Linked DNA regions of Homo sapiens. The protein of the gene in region 1 interacts with the protein of each later gene in a pairwise test. Each region holds a gene or a part of one and is shown in the gene's direction. Other genes may lie near its edges.

Region 1 (3,753 bases):
AATCAGCTTAAGCGGAGATATGTTTCATGTATTTATTTAAAAAGATACAAAACATTTCTCCCATCATTTTTCTATTTTGTTAGCCAGGAGAAGAAAACCTTTAAATTTATTTTTTCTGGTCTGTCCATTGTTGATTTCTCATCTACCCCCTCCCTATGCAAAGCTCAACTTCTTTAGGAACCTGAAGCTTACCTTATAACTGCACCCAAGCCCAGGGCTTTAGGAACCTACCTGGCCTTTCTCAAAATCTTATAGATTCTGTGGTTTGGCTGCTGGGAGCCAGAGGGAGGTGGCTTGCTACTGTGTTTGCTATCATTTTGTAAACCTTCCGTTGCCATTTAAATAGGTATTTGTCTGTACTTTTAGAATAGAAGTGTCTTGAAGGCAATAAGACTGTGAGCTTTTCTGGTGAAAACACTGAGAGCCCAAGTCCACTAGTCCCAACTTTATTAGAGATGCCTGAAAATCCTCCCTGGCTGGCTAGGGGGAGCCGAACCAAGGTGGGATGGGCAAAGGGTGTGGTCAAATTGTCTCCTTCAGTTTTGGAAATATTTAATTTCCAATATAGATTCAGTATACATGGTAGGCTGTTTTGCTTCTCTGATGCCTGGGATAATCTGCCTGATATTTAGTGAGGGGTCAGCTTTGCCCTATAGCACCCTTTCTCTTCTGTATCTTGAGCATAGGCCCCCAGTTAGACTTTTGGAAAGTTTCTGAAAGTGTCACTTGCTCTGAAATTAGTATCAGGTTTGGCTGGTGGTTTGATGGTGAACATCTACCCCATTTCAAATATTTCTGAAAATTTTACACAGCATCCTATGGAGAATGGAACACTTTGTAAGCTATATGTACTTTGATGTAAATGTATATGTACAGATAGCATATGTATATACACACATATATAGTAAGTGGTCCATAGATATTTGTTGAATGAATGGAGAATAACTTTTTCGGTTGTATGCAAAATTCTGATATATGCTTTGCTTAGTAAAAATGCAACATGGCATATTTTCAAGGATTTTTCCTTTTCTTGTCCCATCTTCTAGTATGAAAGAAGTGTAGTGTAGCAGAACTTGACAGTAAAGCTAAATGGTTACAAGCACAGGCTTTGGCATTTAACAGACCTGGATTTGAATCTTTTCTCTGTTGTATAGTGGGTGTGTCAGTTTTCCTGAGCCTTTCAAGAGTGTTATGAGATTGAAGTGAGGTCATGCATGTAAAGTACTGGAGAACAGCACCCAGCCAAGAGGTGAGTGCGTGAAATTAATTTGGGGTACATGAAATTAAGGATATGTGAACTTCCAGAAATAATATACACAATTTTATATGCATTTTTACGGTTCTGTATTTATAGCTATAGCTATAATCTTATTTTCCAAGAAAAGTGTCAACCTCTGAACGATAGGAACTGCTGACTTGGAGTGTTTGATGCCTGAGGCAATGGGTTGTCTTCCTGGGGAGGCTGAAAGGAGTTGAGTGTTGGTGGCTAGTTCTAGGCCTTATCCCAGGTTAACACACTCCATGGAGGCCCCACTTCTCACCTCCCAGTTTCCCTTCCACCAGGCAGGCTGTTAATTGGGCCTGAGAGAAGCTGAAGAATGGTGCCAAGTCCTTGTGACCTCAAGTAAGAAAATATGTCTCTGAATCCAAGCATTCTGAGATGCAATTTGTACAGTTTATTTAACAAACACTTATCTAATCCTTACAATGGGCCAATCACTCTTCTAAGCCTTTTGCAAGTATTAACTCACTGAATCCTCACAACAACCCTATAAGGGAGATAGCATAATTAGCTCATTTTACTGATGGGTAAACTTAGGCACAGAGAGGTTAAGTTACTTTCTTTAGGTTACACTGCTAAAAAGTGGCATTACTGGGCTTACAAGCCCTAACAGTTCATGCTCTTACCTTAGTGGCTGTCCTAGACATTCTTTCCTTGTTTAATTCTTACAATTTATATTCTTTTAATGTATGGAACAAAGGTGGTATTTCCCAAGGTTTTCCAACAGCAGCAAAGGGAAGCTTGCTTAGCTGTAATCTAGAGGTTATAAGAAATTATTGGAGACAGCCAATTTCAATTTCCCTTCGAGTGCTGGAGTTCCCTAAGACGGTCTTGCTGAAACTCAGAGATAGACTGGAAGCACCTTGTTGGATGGCCTGGATCTCTGGTTCTGGAAGAATTACATTTTTGTAATGAGCTTCAACTTTGATGTGGTTTGAGAAGTGTGCTCGCCAGTTTTTTCCAACTATCAATAAGCTATATTTTGATGAAGTGACTTTGTATTTGCATCTTGGTGGACAACTGTGGTTGTAGGCTGAGAAGGCGGGGATTTATTAGAGTGCTGTCTAGTGGGACAGCTGGCTTGCCAGCTCAAGGTCCCAGTGAGGACCAGACCCTGGCAAATCCAGCTCCAGCTGAGAAACACTCACGTCTTCAAGGCCTCTTTCTCAAACAGAAGGGCCTTAGCCTGGCTTCACCCATTCCCTGGGGTGTGACGGGAGAGACTGTTCGGTAGAAACTGGAAGAGAAAGGAGAGTCTGAGAAAGTTCTCTGGAGTTGAAGGGGGAGGGGATGGGGGCAACTCTTCGAAAATCCTTAACTAAATGCAGCTGCTTGTTACACGGAGACTGACTTGCATGCCAGGAATATCTAAAAAGCTAACGAATACAAAATAAAAATAAACAGCAGTAAAAAGGCTCTCTCTTTGTTGCAGTAAGCTCAGTTGGGGTTTTCAGTTTGTTTAGGAATGGGATAATTGTGGCATCCACTTTATTTTGGTAAGGCAGTGAAACGTGGATTAATGTTATGTGATTGGGATGCTACCACCATCTGAACTTTTTCCTTCATCCCCTGCCCCCAGCCACACCCCCCAGAACACCCAGGCATGGACATCCATAGGACCTGAGTCTCAAACAGTTGCCCCTGAGTGAATTACATTGGAAGAGGGCAGATAATTTAATGGGATAATCTTGGCAGGGCCAGCAAATTTCACACCTCATCTCTCACTAATAGAAAGGCAGCAGAAGGCTACAACATCCTCAGATGAAAAGGTTGTATAAAAAGGCTCTGCTTAACAGTAACTGTCTGTCCATAAATAAGGTTTTGTACAGTCTTGATCCAAAAGCTGTTATGAAATACTGATAAGCCAAGCCTCATAATGTTTGGCCTCCTTACATTTCCTTTTCCTGCTTCTCTCCATAGAACCATAGATTTTTTTTTTTTTAAGAGAGAGAGGGGGACTAAAAAAAAGATCAACAGTCCAAACTTTATTTTTTTCAAGTATTTCTATACAGGATGGACTTCCTTTGATAGCTGCTTAAAGAGGTGGCGTGGAGTAATGGAAATAGAATGGGATTTGAGCCTGATAGGGAATGGGGGTTTGAATTGGGGCTTTGTTGCCTTCTTGGGCAAAGTTACCTAAACTTTTGAGCCTCTGTTTTCTTATCTGTAAAATGGGAATAACAATAATATGTGGCTTACTGGGGGGTTTTGTGAGAATAAAAGGATGTTATGAACTTATAGCGCCTAACACAGCACCATGGACTTAGTGAACGTGAAGTATGTTAGCCACCATCATTATCAAGGGCTTACTGAAGAAATTTGAAAATCTGGCTTCAAAACGATGGTCCTGCTGCAAGGTAGCAACCAAGGCTCAGAGAATAGCAAGTTTTACAAGGTTTTAGGACTCCAGAGTGTTTTGTTTTATAGGGAGCATGCAGATGCTCTAGATCTGAGCAGTACCCAGGCCAGTG
Region 2 (3,753 bases), on another chromosome or scaffold:
TTGTATTTTAGTAGAGACAGGGTTTCACCGTGTTGCCCAGGCTGGTCTTGAACTCCTGAGCTCAGGCAGACCACCTGCCTCAGCCTCCCAAAGTGCTAGGATTACAGGCATGAGCCACTGCACCTGGCCAAGGGAGAGGTTTTTTAATTCAAAGCCTAATATTGGCCATTCTGTTTTCTTGTTAAAAAATTTACAGGCTCTGGATTGTAACATTCCAGTGTGTGAGTTAATAGTTTTAAAAATAAAAAGGATGTTTCTGTATTGGCTCCTTCTCTAAGGAGATGTAGAATATGCCAGAGATGGCAAAGTATAGATATCATCCATATTCATATTAACATTAGAAGAGATGTAAATGTTGCAAGTAAAAATTAGAGAGGTTAATCATATCTAGAAAGAAAAGCAAGAGATTGAATATTCTAATAAGCTTGGAATTTTAAATAAATTTAAAAAATAAAGTTTGCCTTAATTTGGGCCAGTAAATTAGAGTGGATTTTAGCTTGGGTTTCCTAAAAATAAAGCCTGAGATGAGGATTTAGAGCTTATGCTTAATTTGAGAGGTACAATCTCTAGGCAGTGAGAGTGGCAAGAAAGGAAAGTGATTCAAGGTGGGACGAGAAGCAATACAAAGTGATGCGTTTACCCTGCTGGGCTCATTTCACAGTGAGCTGACTGTTGGCTATTCAGCAGGTACAGCTACTCTACCACCCAAAATACCTCTGGACAGGCAGTACAAAGAAACTGCACCTCAACCCAGCCTGGAAGGGAGGATTTATCTGCCTGGCTTCCTGTCAGCTCCTGTTTCCCATTGGTCAAAGTTTGCCAGTGGGGATATAACCAACCCCACAATTCTAGGTTATAACATTCCACTCTTTCAGCAGCCACCTCGAAGCCAAATCTAACACCCAGTAATACAACTTTTCAACCAAGTTGAGAATTAGAAAATCCAGAACTCAGAGTACGCCTGTCTATACTGTGGACACCATGGAAGAAGAGCTCCTTCTTTGACAGGCAAAAGTGAAAGCAGGGGAGAGCAGTCAGCCATGGAGGTGGTAGCCGAGGTGGAGCATGCTGAGAGGGTCTGTGAGATGGCGGCACCACAGGAATCTGAGGAGCTGCAGAAAATGTTTCTGATAAGATGAATTAGATTTCAGAAATATGTTCTACCCTCTCAAGCCTTGTGTTTTATACTGGAATCCTAACCTCAGCCAATATTTCCCTGCCCTGAAAACTCAGTGCCATGACACAATCTCAGCTCACTGCAACTCCACCTCCTGCACTCAAGTGATTCTCCTGCTTCAGCCTTCCTAGTAGCTGGGATTACAGGTGCGCACCACCATGCCTGGCTAATTTTTGTATTTTTAATAGAGACGGGGTTTTGCCATGTTGGCCAGGATGGTCTCAAATGCCTGACGTCAAGTGATCCACCTGCCTCAGCCTCCCAAAGTGCTGGGATTATAGGCATGAGCCACCATGCCTGGAAGGCTAATATATATTTAGTTTTAGCAATAAAAATTCTTGAATTTTTTTCATTTTTTTTAAGAAAAGATCTCTTCATGCCTTTGTCTATTTTATATTCAAGTATTGTTAAATCTAATTACTCAGTGAATTACATGTTTCAAAACTACCTTTCTAGGCTATAGTTTGTTGTTTTCATCTTTTTGCATACCGTTGCCAAATGGAATGGATTCCATTTCCTAAGTCTTTACTCATTTCCCTCTGTACTTGCAAAACTCTATTTGGCTTCTCTGTCCTTCCTTTATGCCTAAAGGGACAGAAATACACCTGAGAAGAACAGTAATGGTAACTTCTATAGCCCAAAGAGTCCTTTTAGGAACTAAATTTATTTGTCCCCTCTTTTTATGTACAAAAGGTACAAAGTATAACAATGTGTATTTGATATTTCATGTTCATTGTTTATAAGATGTGATTTTAAAAACATGACGTAAGTAGTCCATGTTCTTTGTAGAAAAAATGGAAAATGCAGATGAAAATTAAGACACTTCCACACTTAGATATAAGCATTGTTAGCATTTTGATATATTTTTCTAGACCTATATATGTATTTTTATAAAAATAGTATCATACAGTTTATATTCTTTTATAGCCTGCCTTTTTTTTGGGAGGGCAACTTCATGACTTTATTTGTGGTACCTGTGCTTTATCTTGAAAATACCTTCTCCCCCTGTCCCAGACAGCGGGCTGGGAGGGGGCAGCAAAAAATAGAAGACTTCCCTCCCTATTGCACATGGACCCTATGTACAGGCCCACCCGGCTGAGGCCAGCAGGCCTCTTGGCACATTCTTGGATCCCTGCTCAGGAGGGGAGGGCTGACGGGGTGCTATCACATGTGAGATCGGGAACTCTGGGCGGCCACTTTGGTCCTGGGTACTGATATTTGCACTTCTTGGTCCTCAGTTCCTTCCTGGTCCTGTCTCTGGCCCTAGTCCCCTCTGTATAGCCTGCTTTTTATACTTGATGATTCAAATCATTTAAAATTTTTGCACAGTATTCTGGTAGTTGGTGATTCTATAATTTATCTTATTTCCTGCTATGAGACATGTAAGCTGTTTGTAGTTTTTTGTTCAATAGAAGTAAAAGTTCATTAGAGAGACATTATGGGTCTAAATAAGTACCTAAATTCACGAAGTTTTTAGATGCTTCTGTTACAAGTAGAGGGTCATGACTGCAAGTTGTCCAGGTTCTTGGCATTTTGAACAAATAATTGGACAAAACGCCCATCAAAGCAAAGAAAGAATGAAGCAACAAAAGAGCAAAAGCAGGGATTTATTGAAAGTGAAAGCACACTCCACAGTGTCGGAGCAGGTCCAAGCAGCGGCCCAAGGGACAGGATACAGAATCTTCTTGGGTCCAAATACCCACTAGAAGTTTCCCAATGGCCACTTCATGCTCACCTTATGTAAATGAAGTGGTATCCTGCAGTCAGTCTGATTGGTTGGAGAAAGCAGCCAACCAGAGGCTGAAGTGAAGTTACAAAGGTCACGCTCCTGTGCAAACATCTGATTGGTTGCAAAAAGCAACCAGTGAGAGGCTAGGGTGAAGTTACAAAGTTATACTTCTATGCAAACGAAGACTTGGCCTGCAATTAGTCTGATTGGTTGTGGACAGCAAATTTCCCATCTGCATGCAGAAAAGGTGAGGGGTTTGCAAAGGCAGTAGCCCCCGGTGCTTTTGTTACTTAGGTGTGGAAAGTTAGGGTTTTCCTTTGAATTTAGTTCTGGGAAATCGGAGTAAAACAGCCTTAGGTTCCCTGCCACCAGACCCTATTCTCTTGCTTTACTTCTTCCATTTTGTTTCAAAGCAGTCTACCCATCACTTTTTTGTATTTGTCATATTTACATTCCCCTCTACTACTGTGGATAGTCATGAGTGGACTGTTCTGACCTGTGCTCCTCAAAGTGTTGTCCAGTTTGCTACCAGACCTCTGCAGGATAAGAAGGTTGTGCCTGAATATAAACCAAGACATTGCTTAGTTCTTTGAGAGATTTTGGCTACTCCCCCACCCCACCCAAACGCTGAACTAAGGAGTATATTTTTAGTGACAATTGATTTTCATTCCACTGCAAAATTCTTATTTCATCATAGGTGGCTGTCAAGCACTTGCAGACTATCACATTATACCCAAGGTTTTTTTAAGTTCTGGGGCACATGTACAGGATGTGCAGGTTTGTTACATTGGTAAACGTGTGCCATGGGGATTTGCTGCACTTATCAACCCATGACCTAGGTATTAAG

Evidence for each region.
Region 2: the proteins of ROR1 (region 1) and DUSP19 interact in a two-hybrid assay, tested with the Homo sapiens proteins (one study listed by BioGRID and IntAct).

The regions. Positions count from the first base shown.
Region 1 is NC_000001.11:63,776,960-63,780,712, forward strand, and holds part of ROR1 (inactive tyrosine-protein kinase transmembrane receptor ROR1 isoform 1 precursor), read left to right. Parts: intron 1-3,753. UniProt on the Homo sapiens protein: Has very low kinase activity in vitro and is unlikely to function as a tyrosine kinase in vivo. Receptor for ligand WNT5A which activate downstream NFkB signaling pathway and may result in the inhibition of WNT3A-mediated signaling.
Region 2 is NC_000002.12:183,088,594-183,092,346, forward strand, and holds part of DUSP19 (dual specificity protein phosphatase 19), read left to right. Parts: intron 1-3,753.